3 separate regions of the Homo sapiens genome follow, and regions 2 and 3 are each linked to region 1. The links come from fine-mapping of genetic effects on gene expression. A gene starts in region 1. Each other region holds a variant in brackets. All regions are shown on one strand. Distances are from middle to middle.

What was found. PIP is the estimated chance that this variant, and not a neighbour inherited with it, causes the effect.
Region 2: its variant is fine-mapped to the expression of LRATD2 in whole blood (TOPMed, PIP 0.92).
Region 3: its variant is fine-mapped to the expression of LRATD2 in whole blood (TOPMed, PIP above 0.99).

What each region holds. Positions count from the first base shown.
Region 1 is chr8:126,557,085-126,559,850 of GRCh38, reverse strand. It overlaps LRATD2 (LRAT domain containing 2), which reads left to right and starts at 1,373. Exons shown (of 2, transcript NM_174911.5): 1 at 1,373-1,817; 2 at 2,366-2,766. The coding sequence starts at 2,462. It overlaps LOC105375751 (a long non-coding RNA gene), which reads right to left and starts at 1,975. Exons shown (of 6, transcript NR_188069.1): 1 at 1,920-1,975. RefSeq lists a silencer at 1,241-1,420 and an enhancer at 1,135-1,971.
Region 2 is chr8:126,501,000-126,503,765 of GRCh38, reverse strand. No RefSeq gene overlaps it. Among named protein-coding and RNA genes, the nearest start is that of LRATD2, 56 kb to the left of the region's middle. The variant C/T (reference allele first, on the strand shown) is at 1,593.
Region 3 is chr8:126,382,508-126,385,273 of GRCh38, reverse strand. No RefSeq gene overlaps it. Among named protein-coding and RNA genes, the nearest start is that of LRATD2, 170 kb to the left of the region's middle. The variant C/G (reference allele first, on the strand shown) is at 1,424.

The sequences.
Region 1 (2,766 bases):
CTCAGGTAACAGCAGCCCCCCACACCATTTGCTATCAAAAGGACTGGGGTGTGTTGGATTCATTCAGTCACATGCGCCTGAGGCCAGCCAGTCTGAAATTATTGAAACAGAATCGCACAGCACACAGTAGTCTCATGTTGATCTAACTTATACTTCAGACTTGCTGAAGGACTAATTTCTATCACAGCCCTGCCAATATTGATTGTTTGGACTCAAAATTACATAAGTAGAATGATTTTTATTTTTTTCTCCTAAACTAGAAAGGATCACAGTAGTGCTAGTATATTCCTGTTTCCACTGGCTGGTTATACATGCTGGAAAAAATTAGTCAAAAGAAAGCAACTGAAGACAGAATATAGGTCTTGAATCGCATTCTTAAGTCCCCTACGAATAAGTCTGGGTGCTTGCAGTAGTGCCTAAACTTGTTTATTGTAAACAGAGCTGTTAATCCTCCACCCTCACCGGACCCATTATTTTAAAAAAATAAACAACAACAACAACAAAAAAAACACTTTGGTAGCCTACATTTAGGTAAAAGAAACGAAACCAGTGGAGAGGTGGAAGTGTCCTTTTGTGGTGGAGGTTAGTAGGCATTACTGGTCTCCTGTCACTTCCCTAAGTCAACAGGAAGGAAATATATCCACTAGGGCCTCTGCTAATTTGTTTCTAATTTAAGGACAATTAGAATTAGGATGTAGGAATTAGGCAATTCCTACATCCCCTAACCCCCCACCCCCCCAAAAAAAAGCAGTCAGAGCTGCACGCTTCTCTCACTATCCAACGAACTGGTACCTCTCTGGAAATAACGGAGGTTATGAACTTTGTACTAACTTCCAGGGGTATCTAATAAACAGAGCGGTGGTCTTGGGACCCAGTCAGTGAATAAGTCTTCGTTCTGTTTTATACTGTTTCTTTTCTGCGATTTTCTTTTCTACCCCAAAGTTTCCCACTACTAACTCTGAAAACACCTCTAGGATGACGCACTCTTCGAGCTGTCCTGGTGAAGAATCCTTTCTTGTGACCTTTAGGGCAAGAAATATGTTCCAGGAAAGAAAAGAAACGACTGTTCCTCCTTCTCCAGGTACTCTGGGAAAAAACAGGTCAAAGGGAAAAGGCGCAAACACCAAACTCTCCTTCCCTTTCTCATTTCCACACTGGCAAGTTGTGTTTGCCTTCTAACTTGTCTCGGAAGGCAAGCAGAGCTCACAGCACCAGCCCCAGGCGGCGGGTGGATTATTTACAGGGGGATTTAAACCCGCTCCGGCGCGGGGGCGTGGCCGGGCGGAGTCCCGAGGCCCGAGTGGGCGGGGCGGGGGCGGGGCTCCCGGCCGCTCGGCGCAATGTGAAAAAGACCCGAGCTCGGGGAGTGAGCGCCTGTCTCTTTAAATGCCACGGGCTGCGCTCCCGCCCGGGAGCCCGGAGCCGGATCTACAATCCCGTCCCTCCAGCTCCGGTGCTTGTTGCTCGCCCGGCCCAAGCGGGAGCTGTTGCCGCCAGGCTGCGAGGCTGCCGTCCTCTCCTCCTCGCGCCCCACCTCCCCCGAGAGCTGGCTGAGGAGGGGCAGCAGCCCCAGCTGGCGGGAGGAAGCGCGGTGTGAACAGGGATTGCCCCCCGCCTTCAAGTATCGGGGCGCTACGCAGCCGCGGGGGAAAGACATGCCCCTAGTCTGCCCGCTGCGCTGCCCTCTGCCCAGCCTCGCTGCCGCCCGCGCCGGGAGAGGAGGGACTGCCGAGCCTACACCTTCAAACTCGCCCTAGAAGTCTCGGGGCGCGGCAGGGAGCCCTTCCCCAGGCCCCACGGCCTTCACCTCTCCGCGGGTGAGTTTGTGCAGGTAACCCGAGCCTGAGGGCGGGCGCGGGGGAAGGGCGGGCGAGCCGGGAGGAGGTAGCGCTGCAGGTGAGCCAGGTAGGGTGACTCACCTGTCCAGGTCGCGCTCTGAGATCCTCGCTTGTTCCTCTGGGGATGGATGCGTTGGTGGGGAGGAGGCGTCCCCGGGGCTAGTTAGGGCCCGAGGGTGGGAGGGGAAGTTAGCAGAGGAGGGGGGGGATTGGCGTAAAGTTTCTCTTTCCTTCCCTCTTCCTGCCCAAGCTTGGCAGGTAGGGCGCAGGCGGAAGCAGTAGAAGCTGCTGATGCAATGGGCTTTTGCCAGGGCCAGGCGAAGGGCTGGGGACAGGGAGAACAGGAGTTGCCCAGTCTCCTGTGACCGTGACCTTACAGGTGGAGAAACGAGGGAAAGCTCGCTACACCCGAGACTTCCCCCTAAAATGGCTCCAGGTGCTGAGCCCCCACCGATTCTTTTTCGGAACAAAACGCCCTTTTCACGGAGGGGCTCCTGCATGGCTTTCTTGCCTTCCTCTCCCAACAGGTAGCCTCAGCCCCTGTCCGGGGACCTGTGCAAATGACCCTGGAGTTGGTTTCGCTTTCTCCCCTTGCGGCGGTGTGAACGTGTGTCCGCAGCGTGATGGGCAACCAGGTGGAGAAATTGACCCACCTAAGTTACAAGGAAGTTCCCACGGCCGACCCGACTGGCGTGGACCGGGACGACGGGCCCCGCATTGGGGTCTCCTACATTTTCTCCAATGACGATGAGGACGTGGAGCCGCAGCCGCCGCCTCAGGGGCCAGATGGCGGCGGCTTGCCCGACGGTGGGGACGGGCCGCCGCCGCCCCAGCCGCAGCCCTACGATCCGCGGCTGCACGAGGTGGAATGCTCCGTGTTCTACCGGGACGAATGCATCTACCAGAAGAGCTTCGCGCCGGGCTCGGC
Region 2 (2,766 bases), 56 kb after region 1:
TCATTTTAAGTATACATATTAGATTAGGGCCCACCCATTAACCATTTTTGCTTGATTACCTCTGTAAAGACCCTATCTCCACATAAGGTTATATTAAGGTTACATTCTGAGATACTAGGTGGGGCACAGTTAGGGCTTCAATATATGAATTTGGTTGCAGGTGTTGGGGGGATACACTTCAACCAACAACCCCCAGCCAAACTGGTAGCCTGCTTGCAGTGGGTAGGAGGAGATGGGACTGGTTCTCACTGCTCTCAGCCCACCATTGTCCACCTGCATGAGCTGGGGCAGGTCCCTGCATCTTTGCAAGCCTCTGTGCCTATGCTTTAAAATGATCAGAAGTCACACCTGCTTCTCAGAGCAGTGATGACAAATAAACAGGATAACATTTGGAGACAGCCCTAGGACGACATCTGATACATTAGAGACTCTCAATAATTGTTCACATTCCTACTGTTGTCCATAATGAGAGAATATTCACAGATAAGAACCCATTCTACTCACTAAAAAAGAAACCAGAACAAAGCACACATACACACCTGCCCTTAGAAACTTCTGTTCAAATGAAACTTCATAAATAAAAACAAACAAAACCAAGAGGTAAAATAAAGAAAGTAGAGTGGTGACTCAAGTATGGGGCAACCCAGGCCCCCTCTGAATATTTACAGTCAGAGAGAACACTTGGCCATAATTTCTTTCATTGCTTCTCTAATTAAGCAGAGTGACTGCTTGGATATTTTGTTAAAAATAATAAAAACAACAACATTGTGTTGTTTTTCTTACAAAATGAATATGTTTACTATATTATGAAATGTAATAAAAAGTCATATTTATATCACATATTTGGGACTATCATGTCATATTTTCAATAAAAACCTGTTGCCTTTTTTTGTAAAAAGTTAAATCATTTAATAATTGCTATTTGATAACATCTTCATATTAACACATGTTGACAATGTACCCTGAACATCTTCTTATGTTAATACATATTCTTCTCTATATTTTTTAATAGCTACATAGATTTTTGTTGTATGAATAATGAATCATTATTTACTTAGCTGTTCATTACTGATGGACATTTATATTCTGCTTTTGAATTATTGTATTTTTATTAGAAACAAATGCATTGATGAGCATCCTTCATCTTTTGACATCTCCCTGTTCTTTCCACTGGAGGGTTATTAAACTTTAGATGTGTAGACCCAAACAGGGTAGCTGGGATGGTGGGAGATGAAAGGGAAAGGGACAACTTACTCGCAGAGCTCCATTCATAATAGTAAAGGGAGTTATGCAAGGGTTTATAGATACATCGGGAGAGATTCATTATGTCTATGCTTCAAATGAATCAGTTACCAAACTGTTCCTGAAAAAAACAACTGCTAGCAGGACATTCCCAAATAATGGGGAGAAAAAAACTTAGTCATTAGAATTCAGAATAAGCTGCAAATGAGTGATAGAGGACTCTGGAGAGAGTGCCTGATTGGAGGGAAATGCCCGAGGAAGGAAGCCTGAAGAGGGAAGAGCAGCCTTCCTCTGTGGTTTCACACCAAAGGGTATATTAGTCTGTTTTCACACTGCCATAAAGACCCACC[C/T]GAGACTAGGTAATTTATAAAGGAAAGGGGTTTAATTGACTCACAGTTTCCCATGGCTGGGGAGGCCTCAGGAAACTTACAATCATGGCAAAGGGGAAGAGGTACGACTTACATGGCAGCAGGTGAGAGAGAGAGGTGAGTGAAGGGGTAAGAGCCCCTTATAAACCCATCAGATCTCATGAGAACTCACTCACTGTCATGAGAATAGCATAGGGGAAACCACCCCCATGATCCAGTCCAGGTCTCTCCCTTGACACGTGGGGATTACAATTCAAGATGAGATTTGGGTGGGGACACAAAGCCAAACAATATCAAGGGGGCTCTTACCCAGAAAGTGCTGCATGAGACCCAAGATTGCCTTCAGTAAGGAACCACTTCACAATTGTTTGTGCTTTTGTCTTTATTGAGCTTTGAGGGCGGGGAGGCACGTGGCCAGGTTTTTGATCCTGGTGCTTCAGCTGATTTTGTTGTGGAAACTTAAGCAAGTCAATTATTGTTTCTGGGCTGAGCCTTCTAAATCTTTAAAATAAGGATACTGGGTAAGAAAATAAATAAGGTCCTTTTTAGATTCTTTATTTTTAAAAAGTCCAAGCCTTCTAAGAATTCACAGAGAAAAAAGTAACAATTTCATAAATCAGGAGTTACACAGAGGGTAGGAGAGGAAAAGTGCAGGATCCAGGGCTTCACCAAAGTTTATTAAGCATCCTCTCCCGCATTTATTATAATCCCATCACTCATGCTCTCTCTTCTGGGTCCTGTCAAATTACTATTCACATCAGCTGACTAATTTTGTCTGAAAAGGGAATGGAAAATCTCCATGTCATCTGATACACTTTTGCTTTGATGGATAAGGCAGAAGTTCCAAAGAGAGTGTTAGGCAGGAAAATCCGGCTCCTTCAAACTAATTACTGCATATCTGATTTATTTCCCTCCTTAATGCTGTTTATTTTGTTTTTATTCAAAATATAAAATTGCTCCCTGAGTTGGGAGATTAATGGCTTTCTTCTCCTTCAGCAACAGATCATTTGTGGGCCCCGGTTATAAACAGGAGGTTAGAATCCATGACTCATTGTTTTTTCCCTTTTCATACAGGATATCCCCTGAGATTAACTGTGGTTACTTTTTTTTTTTTTTTTAAGTTAGAGACATTAACGTCTAATTATTTGCTGGTTGT
Region 3 (2,766 bases), 170 kb after region 1:
AAGTTCTGGGATTACAGGCATGAGCCAAGTGTGCCTAGTCCTAATTTATCTGGTTCTTACCTGTTTTCTGAAACATTTAAGAGGAAGATGCACCTATAAATGACCCTTCAACTCTAAACCCTTCAGTATGCATCTCCTGAGAACAAAAACGTTCTTCTACACAATCAAAATAAGATGGTCACATTTGAACAGCAACACAATTCTATAATTTTATATATAGACAGTCCATATTTCAGATATCCGCAATTGTCCTTATAATGATTTGTGTAGTTGTTTCTACCATTGGACACATCATTTAGGATTCAATAAAAAGTTACAAAGTGAATCGGGTTGGCATGTCTGTTTAACCTCCTTTAATCTACAACAGTTTTCCTGCCTTTTTATTTTTCCTTTCACAAAACTGATGTCGATGATGAGTACAGGAAAATTGTTTTGGAGACTGCTCTTCGATTTGAGTTTGCCAGTCTTGACTGATCTGATCCAAGTTAAATGCTTTTTTTTTTTTTTTTGGCAAGAATAAATTTCGGATGATGTATATGTGTCAGTGTATCATAACAGGAGCAAATGATGTCTATTTGTCTCATTATGATCGACATTGCTTGATCACTGTGAATAATTTACTTCTCAGTTAATTCACAAACATTATATTTTAATGAGTAGTAAATTAGCTTCTGCAGACTTGATAACCACTGGGAGATACACCTGTGTATAGGGCGGTTGTGATTGAAGTCTGCAGCTCTAGCTAACTTTGTTGAAGCACAATACTCCATTGAACTCTCCCGATGTTTTCTCTGCATGGACTGAAGAGGCAGTATAGTTCACTGATCAACACAAAGTGTAAACCCTAGCGTCACACTGCCTGGATTTGAATCCCTGACTCACCGCTTACCAGCAAAGTGACTTTAAGCATGTTCATTGATCTCCATAAACAGTTCCTCCTCTACAAAATGAGTGTAATAATGATTGGCTACCTTATAGAGTTGTTATAAGAATTAAATAAAATAATAAATGTAAATTGCCAAGTATAGAACCTGAGACAGAGTTAGTGTTTAATAAATGTTGTTTTATTCTTATATGCCATGTTCCCTTTAAAAGCAAAGGAAACTAATGTAAATCACAGTACTCCAGAAACTTAGATTTATGGGTGCTCATAAATATCTCCCAGGTTTTATAAACGATCCATATTATTCCTACTTTCATACCCTAAATCAGAATTTCTCAAACTGTTAATGTAAACAAGAATCACTCTGGCAAGTGATTCTTTTCTTTTTCAGGACCTTATTAAAAGGCAGATTCTGATTCAGCAGTCCTCAAGCACAGCCTGAAATGCTCGCAAGTTCCCACCAGATGCCAATGTCACTGGGCCATGGACCACACTTCAAGTAGCAGTACCCTAAATTGCCGCCAGGAGGAAGCACCCTGC[C/G]AAGCTTCTCACCTCATACTCTGGGGTAGATGCTGTCCTGTCATAGTAATCTTCATAGGAATCTGCCTCTAGTTTCCTCTTATTTTGTGAATATATCCAGCAACCATTAACTAAAGACCACACCGATTAAACCACTAGGACAGCTAGAAGGAGACTTTACCCCAAATTTTACTTGAAGGTTTGTCACTTTATGTTTCTACAAGTATACCTATATTCAATACATACCCATAAAGGGTGAAGCAATGGAAACAATTTCGGATTCAGATTGCTCAGAGTTTAAATGCTGCCTCTTCCATTTTTCAGTTGGTTATCAAGGTCAAGTTGTTTAACCTCTTTCGACTTCAATGACCTCATCTAAGAATGGTGACAATGCTAACTTCATGAATCCTTTGTGTCAAATTATATCTACTATATCTATACCTACCTATATAGAGACAGCCTGAACCGAGAGAGAAAGAGAAACAGAGAGAAGTAGAGAACTGGCCTGATTAATATTTCCTGGCATATGGTAGTTGCTCAAGAATCGGTAGCTTGGGTGACTTCCATTACCATTATTTGTGAACCTGTCAGGGTGTATTTTTATTTTCATCAAGTAATTTTTAAGGGTCACAGGGTCACAGACCCACAGAGTCACATCATTTTAGAGCTGGAAGTAAGTGCTCAGCGTTTCTCGGGGACCCATCATGGCCTGAAGATAAATCTATATTCCTCTCTCTCTTGGGTTTTGCTAACGGTAGGACGTGGGTTCCAGGAAGATCGCATGCACTCATTTGCCTGCACACAGTCTTCAAATTAGATTAGCCACCTTCATTTCTTGTGGTCAAGATTCCAATTTGCTTCACACCCTGTAAGCACAGATTCGTGCTTAGCATTCATCTCCACACACACTCCAAATGAGGAAAAGTCTCCAGAGTCTCTGAACAGCAAAGTTGTTTTTACTTTCAATTCCCCGTGGGCTCCTGGGAACCTTCGATGAGCATTTCACGTCTGTATAATAAGGCAGGCAAACTGCCCCATTGTGGATGGAAAATGCCCTTATGAGGTGCTTACGTCATCTTTAGGTTAAAACCGGAGTTCGGTCCAGTATATATATATTCCCCTTAGGGAAGACGGCTGCATTAGCTGTACTTGACTGAGAAGGCAGAAAATGCCAAATTATGTGAGAGAATGGAATGGATTCCTTGAGTGCTTTGTGCTAATTGCTAGCTTTGGCGTGGAGAAATTTCTCTCCTTTCTAGATGCAGGGTGACTACAGGAGAGGTCATGGCTCTCTATGGATTCTGCTGTATCACGAGAACCTCAGACTCAGTTTCTCCACATTGCAGATGGAACCACAGAATGAC